7 linked regions of the Homo sapiens genome follow. The protein of the gene in region 1 purifies or fractionates together with the protein of each later gene. This does not show direct contact. Each region holds a gene or a part of one and is shown in the gene's direction. Other genes may lie near its edges.

What was found.
Region 2: the proteins of ACTR3B (region 1) and NFASC fractionate together in Homo sapiens (co-fractionation; one large-scale study listed by BioGRID). This does not show direct contact.
Region 3: the proteins of ACTR3B (region 1) and PUS7 purify together in Homo sapiens (affinity purification with mass spectrometry; one large-scale study listed by BioGRID and IntAct). This does not show direct contact.
Region 4: the proteins of ACTR3B (region 1) and CMSS1 purify together in Homo sapiens (affinity purification with mass spectrometry; one large-scale study listed by BioGRID and IntAct). This does not show direct contact.
Region 5: the proteins of ACTR3B (region 1) and TMEM33 purify together in Homo sapiens (co-immunoprecipitation; one large-scale study listed by IntAct). This does not show direct contact.
Region 6: the proteins of ACTR3B (region 1) and CD109 fractionate together in Homo sapiens (co-fractionation; one large-scale study listed by BioGRID). This does not show direct contact.
Region 7: the proteins of ACTR3B (region 1) and CLCC1 fractionate together in Homo sapiens (co-fractionation; one large-scale study listed by BioGRID). This does not show direct contact.

The regions. Positions count from the first base shown.
Region 1 is NC_000007.14:152,797,752-152,801,251, forward strand, and holds part of ACTR3B (actin-related protein 3B), read left to right. Parts: intron 1-2,779; coding exon 2,780-2,904; intron 2,905-3,500. UniProt on the Homo sapiens protein: Plays a role in the organization of the actin cytoskeleton.
Region 2 is NC_000001.11:204,827,210-204,831,451, forward strand, and holds the start of NFASC (neurofascin isoform 1 precursor), read left to right. Parts: upstream 1-1,442; 5' UTR 1,443-1,466; coding exon of another isoform or gene 1,467-1,573; intron 1,574-4,242. UniProt on the Homo sapiens protein: Cell adhesion, ankyrin-binding protein which may be involved in neurite extension, axonal guidance, synaptogenesis, myelination and neuron-glial cell interactions.
Region 3 is NC_000007.14:105,515,772-105,519,271, reverse strand, and holds part of PUS7 (pseudouridylate synthase 7 homolog), read left to right. Parts: intron 1-3,500. UniProt on the Homo sapiens protein: Pseudouridylate synthase that catalyzes pseudouridylation of RNAs.
Region 4 is NC_000003.12:100,156,862-100,160,361, forward strand, and holds part of CMSS1 (protein CMSS1), read left to right. Parts: intron 1-3,323; exon of another isoform or gene 3,324-3,500.
Region 5 is NC_000004.12:41,941,929-41,945,428, forward strand, and holds part of TMEM33 (transmembrane protein 33), read left to right. Parts: intron 1-1,818; coding exon 1,819-1,886; intron 1,887-2,864; coding exon 2,865-2,998; intron 2,999-3,500. UniProt on the Homo sapiens protein: Acts as a regulator of the tubular endoplasmic reticulum (ER) network by modulating intracellular calcium homeostasis. Mechanistically, stimulates PKD2 calcium-dependent activity. Suppresses the RTN3/4-induced formation of the ER tubules.
Region 6 is NC_000006.12:73,807,703-73,811,202, forward strand, and holds part of CD109 (CD109 antigen isoform 1 preproprotein), read left to right. Parts: intron 1-380; coding exon 381-546; intron 547-2,281; coding exon 2,282-2,472; intron 2,473-3,289; coding exon 3,290-3,445; intron 3,446-3,500. UniProt on the Homo sapiens protein: Modulates negatively TGFB1 signaling in keratinocytes.
Region 7 is NC_000001.11:108,953,485-108,956,984, reverse strand, and holds part of CLCC1 (chloride channel CLIC-like protein 1 isoform 1 precursor), read left to right. Parts: intron 1-3,500. UniProt on the Homo sapiens protein: Anion-selective channel with Ca(2+)-dependent and voltage-independent gating. Permeable to small monovalent anions with selectivity for bromide > chloride > nitrate > fluoride.

The DNA.
Region 1 (3,500 bases):
AAGATCCTGCATATGAATGAGACCATGTGATATTTGTCTTTCTGTGCCTGGCTTATTTTACTTAACATAGTGCCCTCGAGGTTCATCCATGTTGTGGGCAGATGGCAGAATTTCCTTTTTTTTTTAAATGGCTGAATAGTATTCCACTGTTTATAAAGCCACATTTTCTTTATCTGTTCACCCGTTAATGGACACGTAGGTTGATTCCAGATCTTGGTTATTGTGAATAGTGCTACAGTAAACATGGGAGTGCAGATAGCTCTTTAACATACTGATTTCATTTCCTTTGGATATATGCCCAGTAGTGGGATTGTTGGATCGTATGGTAGTTCTATTTTTAATTGTTTGAGGAGCCTCTATACTGTTTTCCATAATGGCTCTACTGATTTGCATTCCCACCTATAGTGTATAAAGGTTCTCTTTTTGTCACATCATCACCAACACTTACTATCTTTTGCTTTTTTGATAATTGCCATTCTCAGTGGGGTGAGTTGATTGATATTGTGGGTTTGATTTGCATTTCCCCAATGATTAGTGATGTTGAGCATTTTTTCATATACCTGTTGGCCATTTGTATGTCTTCTTTTGAGAAATGTCCATTCAGGTCTCTTGCTCATTTTTCACTTGGGTTATTTGTTTTTTTATTGCTGTTTGAGTTCTTTATATATTTTGATTATTAATCTTTTGTCAGGTAGATAGTTTGCAAATAGTTTCTCCCATTCTATAGATTGTCTCTTCACTCCGTTGATTGTTTTCTTTGCTGTGCAGAAGATTTTTAGTTTGATGTAATCCCAGTTATCTATTTTTGTTACCTGTGCTCTTGAGGTCTTGTCCAAAAAAATCCTTGCCCAGACCAATGTCATAAAGCATTTTACCGTTTTCTTCTAATAGTTTCACAGTTTCAGGTCTTACATTGAAGTAAGTCTTTAATCCATTTTGAGTTAATTTTTGTATATGGTTGAGAGATAAGCATTCATTTTCATTCTTCTGCATGTGGATATCCAGTTTCTCCAGTAACATTTACACTTTGCCCGTTGTGTAAAATCAGTTGAGTGTAAATACATGGATTCATTTCTGGGCTCTTTGTTCCACTGGTTTATATGTCTGTTTTTATACCAGTACCATGCTGTTTTGATTACTGTAGCTTTATAGTGTACTTTGAAGTCAGGTAGTGCGATCCCTCCAGCTTTCTTCTTTTTGCTTAAGATTCCCTTGACTGTTTGGGGTCTCTTGTGGTTCCATGTGAACTTAGGATTATTTTTTCTGTTTCTGTGAAGGATGCCATTGGTATTTTGATAAGGACTGTACTGACTCTGTACCTCACTTTGGGTAGTAAGTCACAAAGATTTTGATTCAGAGAAATTTTATCTAGCATTTACATTTGTATAGCTACAGAGTCGTACTTTCATCAGAAATACATTAAGGACAGTGAGAAGCCATTAGTATATTTATGGAATTAGGTTTATGTTAGAATTATTTAGGTATAGTTTGACCATTTTTCAAACCCACAATAAATATTTTAGTGGAGTAAAATGTTAATTTAGCAAATATTTCTCTAATGTCTGTTCTGATAGCCAGTGGCCTGCTTAGGTGCAAATCCTGTCTGTCTCTTAGAAGCTGTGTGACCTTGATAGATTGTTAAGCTTCCCTTTCTGTGAAATGCAGATAATAGTACCTGTCTCATAAGCTATTGTGAGGATGTAATAAAATAGTGTGCAAAAGGAAACACTTAGCAGAGTGTTCAATAAATGTAAACTTTAATTATTATTATTAGTTATTGACTTCAGAGCCTCCCACTGGAGAGACAGTTAAAGATGGGGGTTATCTGATGTCAAGGAATCTATAGTTTGGTAGACTGATCTTAAACAATTGTAATTCATCCAGAAAAATGCCTTAATGCAGGTATAAAAGGGCCAGTGGAAGCATCAAACACGTGTGCAGAACTGCAGGTTGTCAAGGAAGCCTTCAAGTGAGGAGATGGTGTTGATGTCGAGACCTGATGAATGAAAATAGCTCATGGGAGAGCTCAAGAGTGTGAGCAGGAGTTAGAAATTTCAATGGAAAATGGAATCTTTGTGATGCCCTCCACATTTCATTAGCTGTCTGGAGTGAATTGATATGATTATTTACTGCTAAGTATATTCCCAAATATTTAAGATTAAGATCTTATTAAAATAATGAATTATAAAGCCATTAATATTTGGAATTTTTATGTAATAGTTATTTGATTATGGTACTTTTTTTGGCTACAGATATTAACCAATAACATTCTAATTTATCCTTTTAATGGGATAAATTTTAACGGTTTTTTTTCTTCCTGTAACAAGACTAAAAGTACATTTTAAGGCTATGTGATGTAGAGTCTTATTATAGACATTATTTTTCAGTTTACTCTCCTTTTCTGTATTGTACAGAATTTTGTCCCCTTCTATATTGTATTTTAAATTTGGAACCTACTGATGTATAGGCATTTCACTTACTATCTTGAGGGATTTTTCCAGATAAAACTGAGAAATTTTGCAATGGACCTTCTGTCAGTATAAAAGTAGAGCAGCTCATTTCCTTTGTCCCATTCTGAAAATCATACCAGAATAGAATAGCCTGCTTCTGTATTATTTTATGTACTCATTGACATTGTCTTTTCTGTGAGCACCCTTCACCCCACATGGAGCCCTAACAATGAAAATTTACTTGTGTGTATATAAGGATATTATCCCTTTTGATCATTTAAATAGATATGGATAGTGATAGAAATCTGTGTGTGTGTGTTTTTTTTAAGGTATTGCCATCAGAGAGTCAGCAAAGGTAGTTGACCAAGCTCAAAGGAGAGTGTTGAGGGGAGTTGATGACCTTGACTTTTTCATAGGAGATGAAGCCATCGATAAACCTACATATGCTACAAAGGTAAATTTCCGACAGGTGTTTGCTTCTCTAAGTGTAGAGTAGTAGGATGAGTAATGCAAAATGGTCATCTAGAAGTTGTATTTGCGAGTTGTAGAATGTGTTATGTTTGAATTCTTATGTTTGAATAGAGGTGGTGGTGATGGTTGGTTTTGAATGGGGGTATTTTTGATTGGAGAATTAAGGGAATTAACAGATCCCTGGAATGCAGAATAGACTCAGGAAACACCAGGTCACACATGAAAGCAAGATCCCCTCCTCTGGAAAATTGTTGACAGGTTGACTAACCTGTCAGATGAGGGAAAATTGCAGATTGGTTAATTAAAAAGAAACACTAACGTTATTTAAGCAGACTTTTTTTTTTTAAAGCTCCAGATCCAATTGTATGATAATTAGCTGCAGTTTTCTATCGGTTCCTCATTGTATTTTTTGTTGTTGTTTTTTTAGAGATAGGTCTTACTCTGTCATCCAGGCTGGAGTGCTGTGATGCCGTCTTGGCTCACTGCAGCCTCGACCTCCTGAGCTCAAGCAATCCTCTCACCTCAACTTCCCAAGTAGGTGGGACTACAGGCACGCACCACCAAGCCTGGCTGATTTTT
Region 2 (4,242 bases), on another chromosome or scaffold:
GCCAAGGAAACACCTTCACCCTCAGGGCCTCTGGGGGTCACCATGCTCCCTTTAGGCCCACACTTAATTTCTTTATACTAAGGCCATGAAACTTGAGTCCCAGTTCAGTTTCAACCACCAAACCACTGTGTGGGGTCCATCTCTCTAGACCTTCGTGTATTTGCTGTTTAAAAGTAATGAAGAAAGGGGAGGGAAGGCTGAACAATAATTAACATTTGTAAAGAACAGTTTGGTTCAGTACCTTATCTCATTGATGCTCACTCTATGCCCATTTTACAGATGGGAAAAAGAAGACTTAGAGAGGTTAAGTGAACTGCCCAAGTTTACCCTGCTGGTAAGCCAGGACTTTCTTGGCAAATCCTGTGATCCTTCAACTTGACCATATTAGAAGATTCTAGTATTGGTGAAATCTAAAACTTGTAGGGCCCATCTTAAAATAGCAAAGTAGTTTTAACTAGGCACTGTCAGATGCATCTGGGCTTTGAATTATTACTTGGGCAGGTTCCTTGAACTTTGGTGTTCTCATCCAGAATAAAAGACAGTGGTGCCAGGGTAGGAGCTATGAGCACAGAGAAAGTAGCCCTTGAATGGGGCCACAGAGGGATGCTGCAGGGGACTGTAGTTTTGGATGAGGAGCTGAACTAGAAGCTTCCAAGTGCTCTTCCAAGACAAAGATTCTATGATTCCCTAACTGGGATCTTTCCACTGTTTCAGGTGATAATTCTGAGCTCAGATCCTGTGCACAGAACCTAATGCAGTCTTCGTGTCAGAGCTAGAAGAGACCTTGGGCGACCACCCAATCAACTTTTCATGGTTCAGTTGTGGAAACTGATGTCCACAGATAAATGTCTTGCTATCATGTCAGATAGTTCTCCAGCCACGACTGAGGCCTGAGTCCCCCTAGGGCAGAGGAAATCTCCCATTTCTAAAAGAAAGCCCCGCACTGTTCATAGCAGTCACAACCTCTCTCACATCCCTGAATCAGGATCCAACGACTTGCCAATCAACAAATGTTGCTGGAGAGTTTACCACAAACAAGTCTCTGTGCTAGGCCCTGAGAACACAAGCTGTCCGGCAACTTCCTGCTCCCTAAAGTCACAGTCTATGGTGGAGGTGCAAACAAGCGATCCTGTTGGGGCTTCAGGGTACTTCCTCCTGTGTGCTTTGCACGTAGTAGGTGCTCAGCGAACGGAAACGGGGAGACTAGTTATCACTCTCCAGGCAAGCCCGCAAAGAGGCCTCAGGTGAAAAGAGAAAGGAGGATTTTTTTTTCCGGCCCTGGCTCTGCGCACCGCTCCCCAGCGCGCCAGGCGGGGCTGCGTCCGGAGCATCCTTCCCTCCGCCTCTGTCCTGGTCCCCGCTCAGCGGCCGCTAGGAGCGCGAAGGGAGGGGCGCGGGGGCGCGCACGCAGGGTGTCGGGGGCGCGCCGGCCGCCCGGGGACGCGCACGGGCTGGTCTCTGCCCTAATGCGGCGGCTGGCGGCGAGAGGCGCTGCAGGGGACGCGGGGGAAGTGGCGGCGCCGGCAGCGGACAGCTCGGACAGCGCCCAGGGCCGGAGCCCGAGCCCTTGGAGGTAGGCGAGCGCGAACACCGGAGAGATGGGGGTAGAGAGTCATGGAAACCCACCTAGCGACACCCCCTTGTTCCCGCCCTCGTCTGTCTCCATCCCCTGACCTGCCCCCTCCCCCTCCGTCCACATTCCCATCCCTTCCCCTCTCCACACTGTCACCTGCCCCGAATCCATCCGATTCTGTTCGTATGCCCACCCCGTCCCCGTCCAGCTCCCAGCCCCCTGCCCACCCCAACACCCTTTCTATCTCGTTGGCCGCGTCCCCTCCCCCTTCCCGCATCCTCAACCCTTTCCCTTTCCTCTCTGTCCCCGCCTCATCCGTGAGCCCTGCCTGCCCTTGTACTTCTGTTTACCTCGACACCCCACTTTGGATGACCCCATGCCTCCTGTATTTCCTACCGCACACATCAGCCCCTTCTTGCCTCCCCTATTCTCTTCCCCATCTCATGCCCCTACCAGTTGGTGTCCTGTCTCTCCATTTGCTCCCTCAGTTTCTGTCCTCCCCTGGTTCCCCCTTGCACGCCCTGTCCCAGCCCCTTCCCAGCTGCCTCTTGGTGTCCTCCTGCATCACAGTCCCTCTCAAGAACCCCGCCTTCTCCCCCCTTTGGCTGTTAGCTGGCCTGACACCCGTCACCTTCCCTAGCTGCCCTTCCTGGTGCTGTGTGGAGCCATACAGCCTGTACCCAGCCCTCCCTCAGTGGCCTCTGGACCCCCCTTCCCTGGGTGGGGATCTTGGTTGTGGAATATAACCCCTTTCTGCATGTTCGATCCTATTTGTGGCTTGGGGAAGAATGCTGGGGGTTAGTAGGCCTCTCTCTTATGTTCCTCTCCAGCCATGCAGCCACTCTACTCCTCTAGCTGTTCAGGTTTGTTTCCTAGATGGATTGGGGGAGGGGGTGCTAGGCATTGGGAAACTAGGATGGGGAAGGGGCAGGGTCCAGGGGAATGACTGAGCAGACTCCTCCTGGGGCTTGGCCTGAGCCCTGATGTAAAGGCCTGGATGAGGAGCCCTGCTGGAGGGCTGGATAATTTTGGATTTTAGAAAAGATTCTGCTTCAGCCTCCAAGTCAGCACTTTGGCATCTGGAGCTGTCATGAGTGTGGCCCATGGGCTGGGCCAAGAGTGGGCAGAGTGCTGAATCACCTAGAATCTGGTCCCCATGGCAGCCCCCATCCTGTCCTGAGCCAGGTTCTGCTCCTGACTCCTTCCTTGGCATTTTGGCATGGGGTGTGTGTGTGTGTGTGTGTGTGTGTGTGTGTGTGTGTGTTGAGCAGAGATGCCTCATCCCTCAGTGTGGGGGAGAGGACAACAATACCCCTTTTCTGCCTGCCTGTGTCCCTGGCATGAGGGCCTAGTGCGTCTCATCTACCCTTGGAAATGTGCTGGGCCCTGCTGGGCCTCAGTCAAATCTCCAGCAAGGCAAGGGCAAGCCACAGGGCTTTGAGACCTGGTTGGACAGGAGTTTAATTGTTTGTGTGGAGCCAAAGCCAGCCTCAGAGCCCACAGAACTTAAAGCAATAGGAGAATAGCCCAGGGAAAATGTGTGTGAAGAGTGGAAGCCTCTGGGGATAGGGGCCATACCAGCTGTGAGGTGGGGGCAGTGGAGGAAGGCAGGCAGAGATCTATCCTCCTTCTGGTTTGGGGATGATTGGATGTGGTGGAATTGCATTGCAGGAAGAATTGAAGGAGATGGGGGCCTGCTACGCAGCTAATACATTTCACCTTTTGTCTTGACTGAGCTGGCACTTCGGAGGGAGTAATTTCTCCCCTTGTCTTTGGATTCAACTGAAGGGGTGTGTTGTGTGTGTTGTGATGTGTGTGTGTGTTGTGATGTGTGTGTGTGTTGTGATGTGTGTGTGTGTTGTGTGATGTGTGTATAGAGAGAGAGAGAGAGAGAGAATTATGCCAGTAAGGAAAGAGACTCACTCCCACTTAGCCCCAGAAATTGTGGTTGCCACTGTGGAACAGGGAATGGCAGCCCGATTCCTGTCTTAGGGGCTTAGACGAAACCCAGAGGCTTAAATTGAGGCGTTAAGAGCGAATTGCAGACAGACTCTGTCCCTTCTCTGCAAGGCTTTCACTTTAGGAATCCAAGTGACTGGACTCCTTCAGCTCCTGTGCAGTAAACTCTGAATGGGCCTCAGGCAGTGCCTGGCAAGGGGATGTGCTGCTGGGGGCACTGGCTGCACCTTGCTTTGTCACCCTTCTCCGTCGCCTCTCCAGCGTGAGAGGGGGTGGGGCTGGAAGCTTTCCCTGGCATCAGTGCCTAAGGGCTGCCAGCTTTTCCTGGTACAGGGAGAAAGCATTACCTGCAGCCGTTGTTGAGAGCTGATTGGATTAAGGTCCTGATGTTGAAATGCTTGACTGGAGCTCAGGTGAAGTGGGGGATTCTAATAACAGTGTACATATTTCCCAGTTTTGTGCAATGAATTTCACCCCTCACCCCCTTGTTTGGCATCAGAAAGAGTACGGAGAAATAAACCAAGGCACACGGAGGGAGAAGCCAGCTCCCCAGAGAGCTGGAGCAAGACCTTCCAATTGTACCTAGCCAGCTCCCTGTGGGCTGAACTGGCTGCGCTCACAAGGGCTGGTTCTTTTAAGGCACACATTGAAGAGGTGGCTGAGAGCTGGGGGTGGGGTTCTGGCTTTGCATTTCTGGGGTGGGTGGGCCA
Region 3 (3,500 bases), about 47 Mb from region 1:
ACAGAGGAAAACTCCATCTCCAAAAAAAAAAAAATTAGTGTGTTCTCTGTGCTCTGGCCCTAAAGAAAATGCTCACTATTGTGAGAGCTATAGAGATTACTGATAATTTGCAGGGGATGGAGGAAAGATGTATTTACAAAGTGAAAGTTGTGGATAGTTTTGAAATATAATATGATAGAATTAAGACTAATGGCTGTTTTTGTAGGCTGGGCGCGGTGGCTCAGGCCTGTAATCCCAGCCCTTTGGGAGACCGAGGCGGGCGAATCATGAGGTCAGGAGTTCGAGACAATCTTGGATAACACGGTGAAAGCCCATCTCTATTAAAAATACAAAAAATTAGCCTGGTGTTGTGGCGGGCGCCTGTAATCCCAGCTACTCAGGAGGCTGAGGCAGGAGAATCTCGTGTACCCGGGAGGCAGAGGTTGCAGTGAGCCGAGATTGCGCCACTGCACTCCAGCCTGGGCAATAGAGTGAGACTCCGTCTCAAAAAATATACAAAATAAAATAAAAAATAATTCAAAAAAAGACTAATGGCTGTTTTTCTGATGTTTATTTTGGAGGAATTAATTAATAAGGGACTGTTTGGCCTGGGCGGTGGTGCACACCTGTAATCCCAGTTGAGGCAGGGCAGATCACTTGAGCTCAGGAGTTTGAGACTAGTGGGCAACATGGCAAAACCCTGTCTCTACAAAAAATACAAAAATTAACTGGGCATGGTGGCACATGCCTGTAGTCCCAGTTACTCGGGTGGCTGAAGTGGGAGGATCGCTTGAGCTGGGAGGTCGAGGCTGCATTGAACTGAGATCACGCCACTGCACTCCAGCCTGGGTGACAGAGTGAGACACTGTCTCAAAAAATAAATAAATAAACAAACAAGAGACTGTTGTTAGTGTTATATTAAAATTTTGAAAATGCTAAACTTAATTTTTGTTATAGGTGTAAAGGATTTTATTTTTTTTTTGAGACAGGGTCTTTCTGTCACCCAGGCTGAAGTGTAGTGGCACCATCACGGCTTACTGCAGCCTCAACGTCCTGGGCGCAGTGGATCTTCCCACCTCAGCCTCACAAGTAGCTGGGACTACAGGTGCATGCCACCTTGCCCGGCTTATTTTTATTTATTTTTTGAGACAGAGTCTCCCTCTGTCACCCAGGCTGGAGTGCAGTGGCGCAATCTCGGCTCACTGCGACTTCTGTCTCCCCAGTTCAAGCGATTCTCCTGTCTCAGCCTCCTGAGTAGCTGGGATTACAGGGCCACACCACCATGCATGGCTAATTTTTGGATTTTTAGTAGAAATGGGGTTTCGCCATGCTGGCCAGGCTGATTTCGAACTTTTGACCTTGTGATCTGCCCACCTCGGACTCCGAAAGTGCTGGGATTACAGGCATGAGACACCACACCCAGCTGCCTGGCTAATTTTTTAATTTTTTGCAGAGACATGGTCCCACTATGTTGTCCATGCTGGTCTCAAACTCCTGGTCTCAAGCCATCTACCTGCCTGCATTTTTTCAGAGATGAAGTCTCCCTCTGTTGCCCAGACTGGAGTGCAGTGGTGTGATCATAACTTACTGCAGCCTTAAACTGGTCTCACACAATCCTCCTGCCTCAGCCGCCCTGTTAGCTGGGACTACATGCACACATGCCCAGCTAAGAGTACTTCTTAAAGCTTAGTTGGTGAATCTAGTATTTTAATGAAAAGGGTTTTAAAATACTGTTAAAATTATAATATTTCTATTCTCAGTTGTCTCATTTGGAGTGCAGAGGAAACAAAAAACATTATTTTAGCATTCCCTCCAAAGAAATGTGAAGGATTGGCCAGGCGTGGTGGCTCATGCCTGTGATCCCAGCACTTTGGGAGGCCGAGGCAGGCAGATCACCTGAGGTCAGGAGTTCAAGACCAGCCTGGCCAACATGGTGAAAACCCGTCTCTACTAAAAATACAAAAATTAGCCAGGCGTGTTGGCGCATGCCTGTATGTACTCTCAGCTACTTGGGAGGCTGAGGCGGGAGGATCACTTGAACCCAGGAGGTGGAGGTTGCAGTGAGCAGAGATCACACCACTGTACTCCAGCCTGGGTAACAGGGTAAGACTCCATCGCCAAAAAAAGAAATGTGAAGGATTTTAAGTTTTGGGGAAAGTATCAGAGGAGTTCATTCTCTTCCTGGTTTAACATCAGGCTTCTGGTCTATGGGGTTTTACTTGACAATTAAGATACCATCATTACTATCATGGATAGTGTATTTGTGCAGCATGTTTTCTTAAAATTTTTTCTTTTAAATATGTCAAAAAATGCATAAAACTGCCCTCTCCCCCCTTTTCACATCTAGTAACTTTATATCTTCATTCAAGATAGAATGCTTGGGCTTTCCTGACTGCAAAACTGATTTCCTTGGGCCTCTCACCTTGGGGTAGTCAGGCTTGTTTTCTCTTTGCAATTTAATTCTCTCAGGCCTCTTCTATGTTCATAAGATCACCTCTCTCTCCTCTCCCCAACCCTCAATTTAAAAATTATATTCCAGTCCGGGCGCACTGGCTCACGCCTGTAATCCCAGGAACTTTGGGAGGTCGAGGTGGATGGATCACCTGAGATCAGGAGTTCGAGACCAGCCTGACCAACATGGTGAAACTCCGTCTCTACTAAAAACACAAAAATTAGCTGGGCGTGGTAGCGGGCGTCTGTAATTCCAGCTACTCAGGAAGCTGAGGCAGGAGAATCACTTGAACCCGGGAGGTGGAGGTTGCTGTGAGCCGAGATCAGCCAAGATCACGCCATTGCACTCCAGCCTGGGCAACAAGAGCAAAACTCCGTCTCAAAAAAAAAAAAATTCCATTTCAGCTTCCCTTTCACGTAGTTCCTGCTTGCGAAAATGACACTAGTTTGAGTTTTGCCTTTCCTAGTCCAGAGCTCTGAACAGTTCTTCTAGTAAATATGCTCTCCGCTTTTAGGCCTATAGGACAGAACTTAGAAAAATATATATTAAGTGATTTAAAAATCATTGGTACTATATATACTTTAATAATTAATTTGGGCCGGGTGCGGTGGCTCATGCCTGTAATCCCAGCACTTTGGGAGGCCAATGTGGGTGGATCACTTGAGGCCAGGAGTTTCAGACCAGCCTGGCCAACCTGGTAAAACCTGGTATCTACTAAAAATACTAAAATTAGGCCAGGCGTGGTGGCTCACGCCTGTAATCCCAGCACTTTACAAGTTTGAGGTGGGCGGATCACCAGGTCAGGAGTTTGAGACCAGCCTGACCAACATGGTGAAACCCCGTCTCTAGTAAAAATACAAAAAATTAGCTGGGCTTGGTGGCACGCGCCTGTAATCCCAGCTACTCAGGAGGCTGAGGCAGGAGAATCGTTTGAACCCAGGAAGCAGAGGTTGCAGTGAGCCAAGAACATGCCACTGCACTCCAGCCTGGGCAACAGAGTGAGACTCTGTCTCAAAATAAATAAATAAATAAATAAATAAATAAATAAAATAAAATAAAATACAAAACT
Region 4 (3,500 bases), on another chromosome or scaffold:
GCCTCGGCCTCCCAAAGTGCTGGGATTACAGGTGTGAGCCACCACGCCTGGCTGTTTTTTGTTGTTGTTGTTGTTGTTGAGACAGGGTCTCACTATGTAACCAGGGCTGGTCTCAAACTCCTGGCCTCAAGCAGTCCTCCCACCTTGGCCCCACAAAGCACTAGGGTTACAGACATGAGACACCATGCCAAGCCCCCTACTGTTTTATGTGATCTCTTTTTCTATAATATCATTTATTGAAAAATTGAATCTCTTGGGCTGATTCTCTGATTTTCTCACCACTTTTTTCTTTTCATTTTTCATCTCTTTCTGGGACATTGCCTCTACTTTATCTTCAAGCCTTCCTCGTTTATTTTTATTCCACATTTCTTATTTGTTTTAATGCTTAACTGTTTTTCCCATTTTTACAGCATCTTGTTCTTGTTTCATGGTTGCAAAATCTTCCCTTATCTCTCTGAGGATATGAATTGTCATTATTTTGAGGTACCATCCCACTTTTCTCTAGGTTCATTTTTCTTTTTGTTATTTATTTGCTCTTGTGTTGGAGACTTTCCTTAGATGTCTGAGGAACCTTAGCTATCCATTCTTATTGAAGAGAGATACACTGAAACAGTGATGAGTTGGGTTTGTCAATTAGTGTATTCATGGTAGGGTGATAGGATAACAAGCTGGATTTTTTACTATGGAACTCCCAAACGTCACTCTCTGATGGTATTTCTTTTAGGCCATTCCATTTTTCCAAAGAGGAATTCAGTAGTCTCCTGCCTGCAATATGTAAGCATGGAATAGGGACAGGAAATGGAGGCAAGCCTCAGCCTCTGCCCTTTCTCCCCTGGCCCAGCCTTGATCCTCTTGATGTCTTCAGAGAATAGATCTCCAGTCGGCTGGCAGGACAGGCAAGGTGAAAGGAAGCAGTAATGGGATAGTTGCTTGGCTACCAGGGTAGGAGATATCACCTAGTGGGGGACAGGAGTAGCTAATCATTCTAAATATAAACTTTCAGCCAATCTCTTCTTTTTTAACCCTTTACTCTCTGTAGTACTTTGTGCCTCCAAAGTACTGGACCTTCTCAGAGTCGAGCAGGTCAAAGACTTACTTATTGTTAGCTTCCACCCCTTCTGAAACCCAGCTGCTAGCTTTCTCTCTGTGCCAAGTCACTTCTATCCAGCTCCAGCCACTTTCCATTTTCCAAAAAGTTGTTGAAATCTCTCCATTACTGTTGTTCTCTCTCCTGGTTTCTTGGTTTTTATATAGATCCTGCTCAATAGGTCCTTTTCAATGCCCTTTATTTTCAGTTTACTGGTATTTTGAGGTCCATTTGCCATGTGTAACCAGGAGAATCATTCTTAAAGTAATTTTTGATACTTTAAGGAATTGAAAATATGCTCTAGTTGCTTCCCTTAAAAGCAACATTTTTTTAGGGGAGTGTGATTCTTCAGACTACATATTTAAAATTGCTACATTTCATATAAAGAAATGACATTACTTATCAACTGTCAAAGTCACACAGTGTTGGAATTGGTTTCCAGAAATGCTTAGTGGCTTGGCCGGATTCTTTCACATCTTCCTACCTAGTCTCCCTGAGGGTAAACAGCAACATTCATAAAGCAGTTAACTAAATGTAAGAATTTTCAATACTGTGGATTTGGATTTCTCCATAAAGTCATCTCACCTCTATGGAAATTGACCCCATAAAATTGGCCTCTTCATTGGCACCCTACCACAGCCAGCTAAAGTAACTAGTCTCCAAAACCAAAGATTATTTTGCATTTCCTTTAGGATGATGTAAGAATTTGAACCTATCATTTAACTGAAGCAATATCATGGCTAAAGCAGTTCATCAAGCATGTTTCGTTTTCCTGTGCATGATTCAGAATTACATTTTTATTTTTTCTCCCAGAATTAAAGAGTCCATATTCTTACAATTGAGCTCATTTCTAGATTTAATTTATGTCATGTTTTAATTAATTGGCTTTGTAAACCTAGCACAAATGCAACCAGTACACTGAACATATTCCTCGAGAACACCTCCATACGTTAATAGATTGTAACAGGTTTCTAAATACGCTTCCCAAAAACCTTGATACTGGTAGAGATAATGCAGTATAGTTTAAGGGATCTGCTAATCATATCCCGGCCTTTGCCTTAGGAACATGAGCTGAACACTGGCCTGGTTTGTAATTGGACTCTTATGGCCATCTGGCAGCTTCTGTGACATATTAGTGGCCTTGGCACAGTCTCTAATTGGCATGTACCAGCATCAAATTGGCATGTATCTACATCCACAAGACAGTTTAACTTTCTAAATAAAAGAAGCCATATCTCTCTTTTCTTTAGCTATGATGCAATTGCTCTTTGCAGGTTTTTTGTTTTATCTTAGAGGAAACTAAAATTTCAAGATTTCCCATGTCACTTTAATCCTGAACTTTTTAAATCTATTTCTGTAATAACTAAAAGAGAATCTTGAAACTGCGGGTCTTTGGCCCCATGTCTTGAAGAAATTATGTAGTATTATATCTTTCTCTCTGACTTCAGGCCATAGACATTCTCAATCTGCAGGCTGTCTGCAAGCTTTCATAGAAAGATTCATCTGTAATCATTTTAGCAGAGCCAGTGGAGACAAGATTGCTTTAGTTAGTAGCTTATCAGTTTAAACTGAGTATTCTCTGGTTGGAATGGAAAGTTAATCAAGGAAAACTCAGAATAAGTTTTCACTTACATTTTATATCTTACTTGGCAACTTGTTTGACAATGTTGCATAAAAGGTCCAGCACAGGAAACATTTTATACTCCTGCTTATGATTAATAAATATGGAATCTGGGGCATTCTATTTTATAAATCAAGGTCTTAGTCCAAATTTCCTGTTTTTCTACATTAGAAAAAAGCCCTCAGGGTAAAAATAGTACTAAACTGGGGTACTCAGGGGTCAAGGCAACAGGCAAAACAGATTACTCTAGATACTGTGGTGCTGAGACGGTTATCAGACTAGTAGCAAAGACATTCATTTTGTAGTCATTATAGCAAAGGCATTTGATGCAGCTGGTTTATAAAAACGTAAGTTAATATATCTTACTTTGGATTTTCTATGCTTATTGAAAAGAGGAAAGGAATGTATAATACAAAACAATAAACCAGTGACTTGGAAATGTAGGCTCACACACAGCTAGTTCATGGAAAACCTTAGTCACTCTAGTCAAAGACTGTCTTACCACATCTTAATTTTAATCACATCGATTTCTGCTGTATTATACAAACTCAGCCACTGTCTTCAATCTCCAATACACTGCACTTCCACACCAAGCACACATATACACTCACTCACAATTTGATCTTGCTCAAAGATTCTCCAGTCTTAAGTCATCTGCGCTTTCTGACTTTCTCAAATTCTCTCAGCCCAACCGCTGCATAGTAACCTACGGTAGATCTTCCAGCATCTCTCTTTCTGTAGAATATTACCAAGATACTCTGAAGAATACATGCATGGCAGAAAGTACTTTGG
Region 5 (3,500 bases), on another chromosome or scaffold:
CTTACCAAGGATTTGTGAACTATAGAATGTTAGACATAAAAGACTCATTGGCAGTTTCTAGCTTTGATCTCTGCATACTCATTTGCCAGAGCATGAAACTTGACCTAGGAAAATTAGGTTAGTGACAGAGTCAGGAGTGGAACTCAGGTATCTTGACTCCCAATTCAGGGCTCTATTTTCACTACCTGACACTGCCCCTTTTATTGAATTCAGTCTGGATATGTGTCAAAGTTTAAATTGAATTCTTTAAGGATCGACAGAGTTTTATAGTGACTTTTGGAGAGGGTTGTAGCTTCCATCAGTTTCAAAGTAGTCTATGATTCATTAAAAAATTTAAAACTTTTTATATACATATATGATCTCTACTTAGGAAATGGACATTTTTCTTAATTCTTGTTAGAGGTGGGAATGAGTTGGTCAGGATATTAATTTGGAGAACTATATTAGGGAGTTAGGGTTCTTCTAATACTTGGATATAGGTTGGTGTCTTGCTTGTCAATTGGAAACTGGGACCCTTGAATTCCTAAATGAGTTATGGTTATAATGAATTTGATACTCAGATTATGTTACAGCAATCACTATTTCCTGTCATATTAGGCCTTCAGTTAGTATAGAAAAATACAATGGTTCATTTCTTAGGAACTGGTAATATTTTTAGGACAAGTATTTTTGCCATTTGTGATTGACTAACAGTCTATATCATTTTGTGGAACTACTTGACAATTTTTTTTTTTTAATCAACCTGGCAGAAATTGGGGTGGAGAATGGGGTCTTTTGAACAATTTCCATTTTTCAAAAAGTTGAATGAAAAATGTATGTTTATCCATGGCATAAAGCCAAACAGTTGGACTCAAAAGGATTCTTTCCTTATGTCTGTAATTAAGCTGATGAGAGTTTCAATTGACTATATACAAAGCAAAATACATACTGCCTTGTTAATTTTTACAAATTGAGAGCATAACTGTGACAACTTGTTAGGTATAGTATCTCAAAATAATGGAGTCCTTGTAGGAAAGAAGTAATAAAAGATCTTTAGTCTTTGGGACTAAAAATTTGGGAATTACTCTTTAAACTGTTACCTTAGACTCTTTCCTCAGCGTTTGAGATTGTGAAAGCACTGTAAAACTACTGTGTTTGAAGGCTAAGTTAGAGTGACCAAGAAAGCCGTTGTAGGGTTAGAAGCTATACTTACAACCCTTTGGGGTGGCCTAGATTTCAGTTTAATTTAGCAAGTGTTTACATTGTTACCCAGTAGAAATGAAGGAAAAACCTTTTTTTCACTATTAATTTTTGTCATGAAAAGAACTGTGAATTGGCCGGGCGCAGTGACTCACACCTGTAATCCCAGCACTTTGGGAGGCCGAGGTGGGCATATCACCTGTGGTAAGGAGTTCGAGACCAGCCTGGCCAACATGGTGAAAACCCATCTCTACTAAAAATACAAAAATTAGCTGGGCGTGGTGGCAGGCGCCTATAATCCCAGCTACTCGGGAGGCTGAGGCAGGAGAATCACTTGAACCCAGGAGGTGGAGGTTGCAGTGAGCCAAGATTACGCCATTGCACTCCAGCCTGGGGGAGAAGAGTGAGACTTTGTCTCAAAAAAAAAAAAGAACTGTGAATTTTAGAAAATGAAATAGTTTACTTTCTTCTTTATAGTGAACAAAATTTGATTTGGCTTAAAGTGTATCAGTAAAACAAGCCATTCCACTGAACTCATTTTAGCAGATGTTTCACATCTGTATATTTGGACATAATACATAGTCTGTTTTGCAGAATACTTGATGACTTTTAAATGTTTTCCTTAATTGTTTTCTTTAGTGAGTATCTTCCCAGTCTTGTTATTCTCTTTGCTTCATGCTGCCACATATACGAAAAAGGTCCTTGACGTAAGTAAAACTGCTCTTTGTCTGACTTCTGAATTACAGATCATTGACATGAATTTGAGTTCTAAGACATTTTGGTATTTGTCACAAAAAGTCCCTCTATACCTTACAAACTTGTTATGAATTATTTAGTGATTTGAAAGTTTTAAGTTTAAAAGTGTTTATTGTTGAAGTTTCACAAACTAGAACATTTTATAGATAAAGGATTGCACTTAAAATCACCCCCCAGTCTCCAGGGGAATTTTTCAAGTTTGAAATAGATCAGTTTTTTTGAAACCTGTGTCTCTAAAGTTTGTTGAGTTGTCAGATCTCTTGTTCTGTCAGTGTTTAATTCTGGCATACCTGATAAGTTGAGTGTACTGAATGAATCTCTTGTACACTAATTTTCAGAACTGCTGCTTTCCTGAAATTCTTTCTTATTGCTAGGTTGGAGCATTAAACCTAACTTGGCACCAGGCCATTTACAGCATATACTGAAATTTGAATTAAAATATCCAGGCACATTTACCAAGCACATTTACAGAAATTTGAATTAAAATAGCCAGATTTATGCTTTGTATTGGCCTTTTTCTTTATCCCTATAATTCTTTGGTCACAGCAGTAATTACACTGCTGTATAATTCTAACATTAGCTAAGAAAGGAGTCACAGATATTTTAACTGTATTACTGGATAGTCAGATTTTGTTGTGGTTAGAGAGAAATAACCACTATTTTTTGTTAAATAATCATTCTTGAGAAAAAGCAGCTAAGAATGAAAAGTACTTTTACTAAAGTTGTTTTTTATATTAAGTCTAAAAATGTAAAAAAGCAGGAAAATATACTATATTTGTCCTTAAATAGTTTGTGAACTTCGTACCATCATTTCCAAAGTAGTATATTTGGTTGTATTGCCTGTTGGATAGGCTGTTTACCTACAGAAAGAAAATATTGTTATCAGAAATGCTTCACTTATTTCTAATGTTGGTTTTCTTTTGTTTTAGGCAAGGGGCTCAAATAGTTTACCTCTGCTGAGATCTGTCTTGGACAAATTAAGTGCTAATCAACAAAATATTCTGAAATTCATTGCTTGCAATGAAATATTCCTGATGCCTGCGACAGTTTTTATGCTTTTTAGGTAAGGAAAAATTATATTTGTTTTGGGAGGCTGATGACTGAACGTAATAAAGATAGTAACTCAAGTTTTATTCTGTTTAAATCTGTTGAAGGTAGGTATTGACATGTAGAGCTAAATGAATCTTAGCAGTTGCCTAATCTAACCTTTGTCATTTATAGTAGAGAACTTGAAATATAGTAGACCTAGGAATTTGTCTTATTCCTTGTGATTTATCATTTGACATTTTAAAAATTACTTTCATAGTTACCACCTTTGAAAGAATCTTATGAAATCTAATCTAGTCCAGTCTGTCACTATTGAGATGATGTTTCTTACACTAGAGAAAAACTTTTAAAATTATGTTCTTATATTAATAGTGCCTACTATCACCTTATTTTGTTTGTATCTTAATTATAGAAGTAATACATGAATAAAGAAAGCCATCCTTTTAAAAGTATGAACATTAAAATAGTATTGACCTCTGCATTGAAATTTTTGCATTACATTTTAAAACAATACACCT
Region 6 (3,500 bases), on another chromosome or scaffold:
ATGTAGAAGCTAAACTTTTCCTGAACTTAGGGCCGCACTACCAGAGATCAAATATAAGAAATATATTTCTCAAGCAGTTTGCTGTTCTTATCTGAGTCTGTGATACTGAGTGGGAGAAACACTGGCAAAAGCTCTACTTTTTTCTTCTAGGGAATGACACCTGTTTACTTATAAAAACTGAAAAACAGTATTATTTTCAAAATGCATGGCAAATCTTTAAATGTCAATGATCATGGTTGATTTTCATTGCCTAGTACAAGGTCAGGTACTTCATAGACACTGAACTTATTTTTTAAATGCATGTTTCAAAGTACTTTTTGTTTCAGTATGTGGTAATGGGTTACTCTGAATAGTAAAAAACATACTTTTTTTCTTCCAAGCCTAACATTGATGTGCAAGAGTCTATCCATTTTTTGGAGTCTGAATTCAGTAGAGGAATTTCAGACAATTATACTCTAGCCCTTATAACTTATGCATTGTCATCAGTGGGGAGTCCTAAAGCGAAGGAAGCTTTGAATATGCTGACTTGGAGAGCAGAACAAGAAGGTAATGTGCTGGGCCCACTTGAGGTTGTTATGCTTTATGAAATATATAACTTACATGAGAAAAATTTTTAGCCAGGTTTGAAATTGATTACATCTGCATCTTTTGGTGAAAAGTAAAACACATAATGAGATCAGGATGGGCCTGACATGGCCACAATGCTTCTGGTCTCCCCAGGGTTTTTTTAACAGAATTTCAGGGCTCAGATGTCTCTTTATTTTAGATATGTGATGCCCTATGTCAGTTACCCTTTGAGTGTCTGATACCATTTCTGGTTTGGCAGCCTTGTAGTTTGCTAAGACCTTGGGTTCTGGAGAGACAGGTTAAATCCTGGTTCTGCAACTTACCTTTATGAGGTTCAGTTTTCCCAACTGTAAAGTGGAAATGGCACCTATTTTAGAGTGGCTGTGAGGATTAAATGAGATAATGTGCAATGCTGCTGCATAGCAAATGCTCAAAAATAGGAACTAAAATGCTAATTAAAAGAAATGTGAATACCAAAAAATGCTGCTAGTAAGTGGATTATGTGTATTTTATATACAAAGTGGACAGGGATCCAGGTGTGTGTGTGTGTGTGTGTGTGTGTGTGTGTGTGTGTGTAAGAAAGAGAGAGATGGAAGTGGGTGGGCAGAAATAAGATAATGTCCAGTGATTCAAATTTCTGTTAATTCAAGAAGGGATAATTGTAGAAAGTGTTTAGAGGCTTCTGAGACTGTAAAAAATATTGTATTAACAGTAACTTAGATTGAATCCTTGTTACCTATTCCAAAGCTGGGGACTAGAAGATTATTGCTTAGAGGCTGAAGCAGTCTTTGACATTTTTTCTTCTTGTCTGCTTGGCTAAGTGGTAGTTATTTAATATTCCACCTAAGTGTAGTCATCATCTAAATAGTAATATTTGAGAGAGGGCACCAAGTAGGATGGTCCTCTGGGGACTAGAGCAGAATTATCTCTAGGAAGGTTGTTGAGTTAGCTGGGGATCCTAATTTTTTTTCCTGGGGGCTTGAACCTCAAACTGTTAACACCAACCTTCAGATAATGAAAATGGGAGAGTCCAGAATATTAGAGCTAGTTAATGGCAGATTCCCAGAATAGGATTCTTTTCAATGTGTCTTAAAATATTTTGGGGATGGCCTGGTCAGATAAGTAACGTGCATTATCTTCTGAAATATATTATTTTTTCCTTTTATTTATAGCTATTTAGTCTTGAGCCAAATATAGGGAATTTCTCATAGGAAAACTATTTTCATCAAAACATCCTCAAATGTAGGCAATGGGAAAAGGATGAAAATTTACAAGTATATAGGTTGAGCATCCCTAATCCAAAAATCTGAAATCCAAAATGCTCCAATGAGCATTTCCTTTGAGTATCATGTCAGTGCTCAAAAAGTTTCAGATTTTTGAGCATTTCAGATTTTGGAATGTATGTATGCTGTAAATATTCCAAAAATTCAAACAAAACAGAAATTGGACACACTTCTGGCCCCAAGCTTTTTGGATAAGATATACTTAACTTGTAATAGTTTAAAAAAGCAACATATAGGCACATGTATACATATGTATGTGTGTGTGTGTTTGTGATAAATAAATACATGTCTGGCATAAATAAATACATGTATACAAGTATATATTTTTTATGCTAGTTAAGTACAACTTGGACCAGAGTAGGAATATTTAATGGTATAAAATGTAATTTTTCTGGATAATTGATCAGAATGTTATTACTTTTCTCTTGCAGGTGGCATGCAATTCTGGGTGTCATCAGAGTCCAAACTTTCTGACTCCTGGCAGCCACGCTCCCTGGATATTGAAGTTGCAGCCTATGCACTGCTCTCACACTTCTTACAATTTCAGACTTCTGAGGGAATCCCAATTATGAGGTGGCTAAGCAGGCAAAGAAATAGCTTGGGTGGTTTTGCATCTACTCAGGTGAGAGATGATAGTTTTTTCCCTTTAAACTATAATATATAATATAGATTTATTTATTATATATATTTTATATATAATATATAGTATATATTATATAAATCATATGTTATATATAAAAAATATTTTTAAAAGTATGTGGTTGCATTTTTTCCTTGATTTCATAAAATTACTTGGCAGTTTCAAAGTTTAGTAACTTAAGCAAAAGGCTAAATTGATTAATTTTAATTTTTTTCTCCTCATTACTATGAATTTCATGTCTGATATTTATATGGAATAAATCAGTTCCCCATCTGCCACTTTTCATCTGTGGTAACTGATATAAGAGTAGATGTTCAGTTCCATATAGCAAATATTTTCTATTTTCTTTTCTTCTTTTTGGAAAGGAAAAACTGAAACTTTTAATTTACTGATAATATGATCATTTATGAGCAAAATTCAGTGGGATCTACAGAAATGCTACTAGGATTAACAAGTGAATTTAGTAACATTGTGGTATAAAAAAATCATTGTACAGAAATCCATTGTATCTATATATAAGCAATGGAAATGCAAATCAAAATAGCATAACATGTGAACTGTTTAGGGATTAATCTGACAAAAATCAATAAGATCTATACACTAAAAACTATAAAACATTTCAGCAAACATTTTCTGAGCCTCTCCTGTACTCTAGGCCAAGGACATTCAAATATGAATCAGGGAGCATTCCACTCTGAAGGAAGGTGTATGAATATCCAGCAACAAAATACTACTAAATTTACTCTTTGAAGACCTTGATATATACTTATATGTACAAATGTTTTTCTTCCCTCAACAGGATACCACTGTGGCTTTAAAGGCTCTGTCTGAATTTGCAGCCCTAATGAATACAGAAAGGACAAATATCCAAGTGACCGTGACGGGGCCTAGCTCACCAAGTCCTGTAAAGTTTCTGATTGACACACACAACCGCTTACTCCTTCAGACAGCAGAGGTGTGGGCAAGGGGCAGTTATTTAAAAATCAGTGTAGACAATTCTTTATGCTGGA
Region 7 (3,500 bases), on another chromosome or scaffold:
ATTTAAAAGCCTCAAGTGGCTTCTTGTTACACATAGAGTAAAAACCACACTCTTTACTGTGGTCTACCACTCCCTCCCCGCCTCCCCGCCTCCCCGCCTCCCTGCCTCCCAGCTCATTCCCAAGACCCAGCTGTTCTGGCCTCCTTTCTGTTCCTTGACTGCTTCAGCTTCTTCTCCACTCAGGGCTTCTATACTTGCTGTGTCTTCTCTCTGGATGTTCTCCAAATCTTCCTAAGATTATCTTATTTTTCTCCTTAAATGTTCTTGTGGTTATCTGCTTGCATGTAACAAACCACTCTAAAGTGTAATGCTTTTTTTTTTTTTGAGACGGAGTCTCGCTGTGTCACCCAGGCTGGAGTGCAGTGGTGTGATCTCGCCTCACTGCAACTTCCGCCTCCCAGGTTCAAGTGATTCTTCTGCCTCAGCCTCCCGAGTAGCTGGGACTACAGGCGCGTGCCACCATGCCCGGCTAATTTTTTGTATTTTTAGTAGAGACGGGGTTTCACTGTGTTAGCCGGGATGGTCTCGATCTCCTGACCTTGTGATCCGCCTGCCTCAGCCTCCCAAAGTGCTGGGATTACAGGTGTGAGCCACCATGCCTGGCCAAGTGTAATGGCTGTAAATAACACTTTTATTACTGCTGGTGATGTTGTGGTTTTATGGGGTGTGATGGGGCTCAGCTGGATAGTTCTTTTATTCTACATGATGTTGGCTGGGTCACCAAGTCAGTCACCAGAGGTTGGACTGGAACCACCAAGATGGCTCACCCACATGGCTGGCCATTGATATTGGCTGCAGGCTGGGAGCTCAGTGTGCCCCTGCACCCAGCCTCTTCGTGTGACTTGGCCTTCTTACAAGGTGGCAGCTGGCTTCCAAGAGGGGCGTGTTCCCACAAACATATGTTCTGTCTTAGGATTCTCCAGAGAGACAGTGAGGGTGGGAGGATGGATGGATGAGAGGGGATTTATTAGGGGAATTAGCTCATATGATTATGGGTGCCGAGAAGTACCATGATAGGCTGTCTACAGGCTGGAGATCCTGGAAGGCCAGTAGCCTGGCTCAGTCCAGGTGTGAAAGCCTTAAAACCAGGGAAGCCTATGGTGTAATTTTCAGTCTGAGGCTGAAGGCCTGAGAACCTAGGGGCTGCTGGTTTAAGTCTGGGATTCCAAAGCCTGGAGAGCCTGGAGTTCTGATGTCCAGTGACAGGAGAAGAAGGGTGTCCCTGCTCCAGGAGAGAAAAGAAATTCCTTTTCTCTTTTTTGTTGTATTAGGGTCCCCAGCTGACTGAATGGTGCTGGCCCCTACAGAGGGTGGATCTTCCACACTCAGTCAGCTGACTCACAAACCAGTCTTCCCTGGAAACCCCTTCAGACACATCAGAAGGAATGCTTTGCAGTTCTCTAGGTTTTCCTTAGTCCAGTCAAGTTGACACTTAACCATCACATGTTCCAAAGTGAAGTAGAAGCAGGCGACCCTCTTGAAGGCTAGGCCTAGAACCATCATAGCCCCACTTCAACCAAAGGATTTTGGTTCAGTAGTCACAGGGCCAGCCCAGATTCAGGAGAGGGGGAAATACACTCCATCTTTCCGTGGGGAGAGTAACAAAGCATTTGTGACCGTCTTAGATCTTAGGGGCCTACCCTGAAATACCCAGCATCGCCTAATCCATATGTACCACTGTCTTGCTTTATCTTCTTAGGATTTATCACTATCTTGAGTTACATGTTTTTGTTTTTGTTTTTTTGCCAACTTACTGTCCTTCCTTCCCCCCTAGAATGTAACCTTCCTGAAGAAGACCTTTGTCTGTGTAGACTCCTGGTATCCCTGTAACTTAAGACAGTGCCCAGCATGGTGGCTCATGCCTGTAACCTCAGCACTTTGGGAGGCCAAGGCGGGTGGATCACCTGAGGTCGGGAGTTCAAGACCAACATGGAGAAATCCCTGACCAACATGGAGAAATCCCTTCTCTACTAAAAATACAAAAAATTAGCTGGGTATGGTGGCACATGCCTATAATCCCAGCTACTTGGGAGGGTGAGGCAGGAGAATTTTTGAACCCAGGAGGCAGAGGTTGCAGTGAGCCAAGATCGTGCCATTGCACTCCAGCCTGGGCGACAAGAGCGAAACTCCGTCACACACACACACACACACACACACACACACACACGCAAAGACAGTGCCCAGTATACAGTAGGTATTTGGTAAATGTTGAACAAATGAATGCTGAACTCGTTCCACAACCATATTCTCATTATGAATTTCTTTTTAAAATTAACATCACCATTTTTGTTGCTGGTAGGCCAAGGTCTGTAGAATTGATCTTCAGAGTGTGCCACATGTGTTCTTTCTGGTTTTCTTGCCACCACTCTTTTAGGCCAAGTACCACATCTTTTTTCTGCTTCAGCCTCTTTGTTGGATAATGAATCCAGGTTTTCCTCCTCCTGTGCGCTTAGTGCTGGTGGTGGTGGTGGTTGTTGTTGTTTTTGAGACCGAGTTTTACTCTTTCACCTAGGCTGGAGTGAAGTGGCACGATCTCGGCTCACTGCAGCCTCCGTCCCCCACCCAGGTTCAAGCGATTCTCCTGCCTCAGCCTCCCAAGTAGCTGGGATTTACAGGTGTGTGCCACCACGCCTGGCTAATTTTTGTTGTTGTTGTTGTTTTATTAGAGACTGGGTTTCACCATGTTAGCCAGGATGGTCTTGATCTCCTGACCTCATTATCTGCCTGCCTCGGCCTCCCAAAGTCCTGGGAGTTAGTCGTAAGCTTTTTTCCTCAGCAGTGTCATCACCACCCACCCACCTCTACCTCTCACCGTATCCATCCTCGCAATTGCAATTGCTGAAGCATACACTTTGCCCTCTGCCTCTCCCATCTTGAGCACTTAAGATGTTACCCATACCTCGGATTCCCATTCCTGTGCAGTCTTTCCACTTTCTAGTTTCTCCAGTCGGATGTGTTTTTTTTTTTTTTTTTTGAGACGGAGTTTCACTCTGGTTGCCCAGGCTGGAGTGCAATGGCATGATCTTGGCTCACTGCAACTTCTGCCTCCCAGGTTCGAGTTATTCTCCTGCCTCAGCCTGCCGAGTAGCTGGGATTACAGGCATGCACCACCATACCCAGCTAATTTTGTATTTTTAGTAGAGATGGGGTTTCTCCATGTTGGTCAGGCTGGTCTCGAACTCCTGACCTCAGGTGAGCTGCCCGCCTCGGCCTCCCGAAGTGCTGGGATCACAGGCGTGAGCTACTGCACCTGGCCAGATGTGCTTTCTTTATCCTTTGAACCTCTAAAATCCTTGAGTCCTTGCTATGGCTTTATTTGCATTTGCTGCTTAACAAACATTTACTGAATGTCTTTCACGTGCCAACCACTGGGCTGGGTGTTGAGGTTGGGGAGATGGAGGGACAAGATAGAGAGGCCAGTGGGAAGGTGACTTCAGATCTAGGTAAGATACTATCTTTCCCTAGAGAAGTTCACATTAACAGTGGTTTTCTGTCTTGGC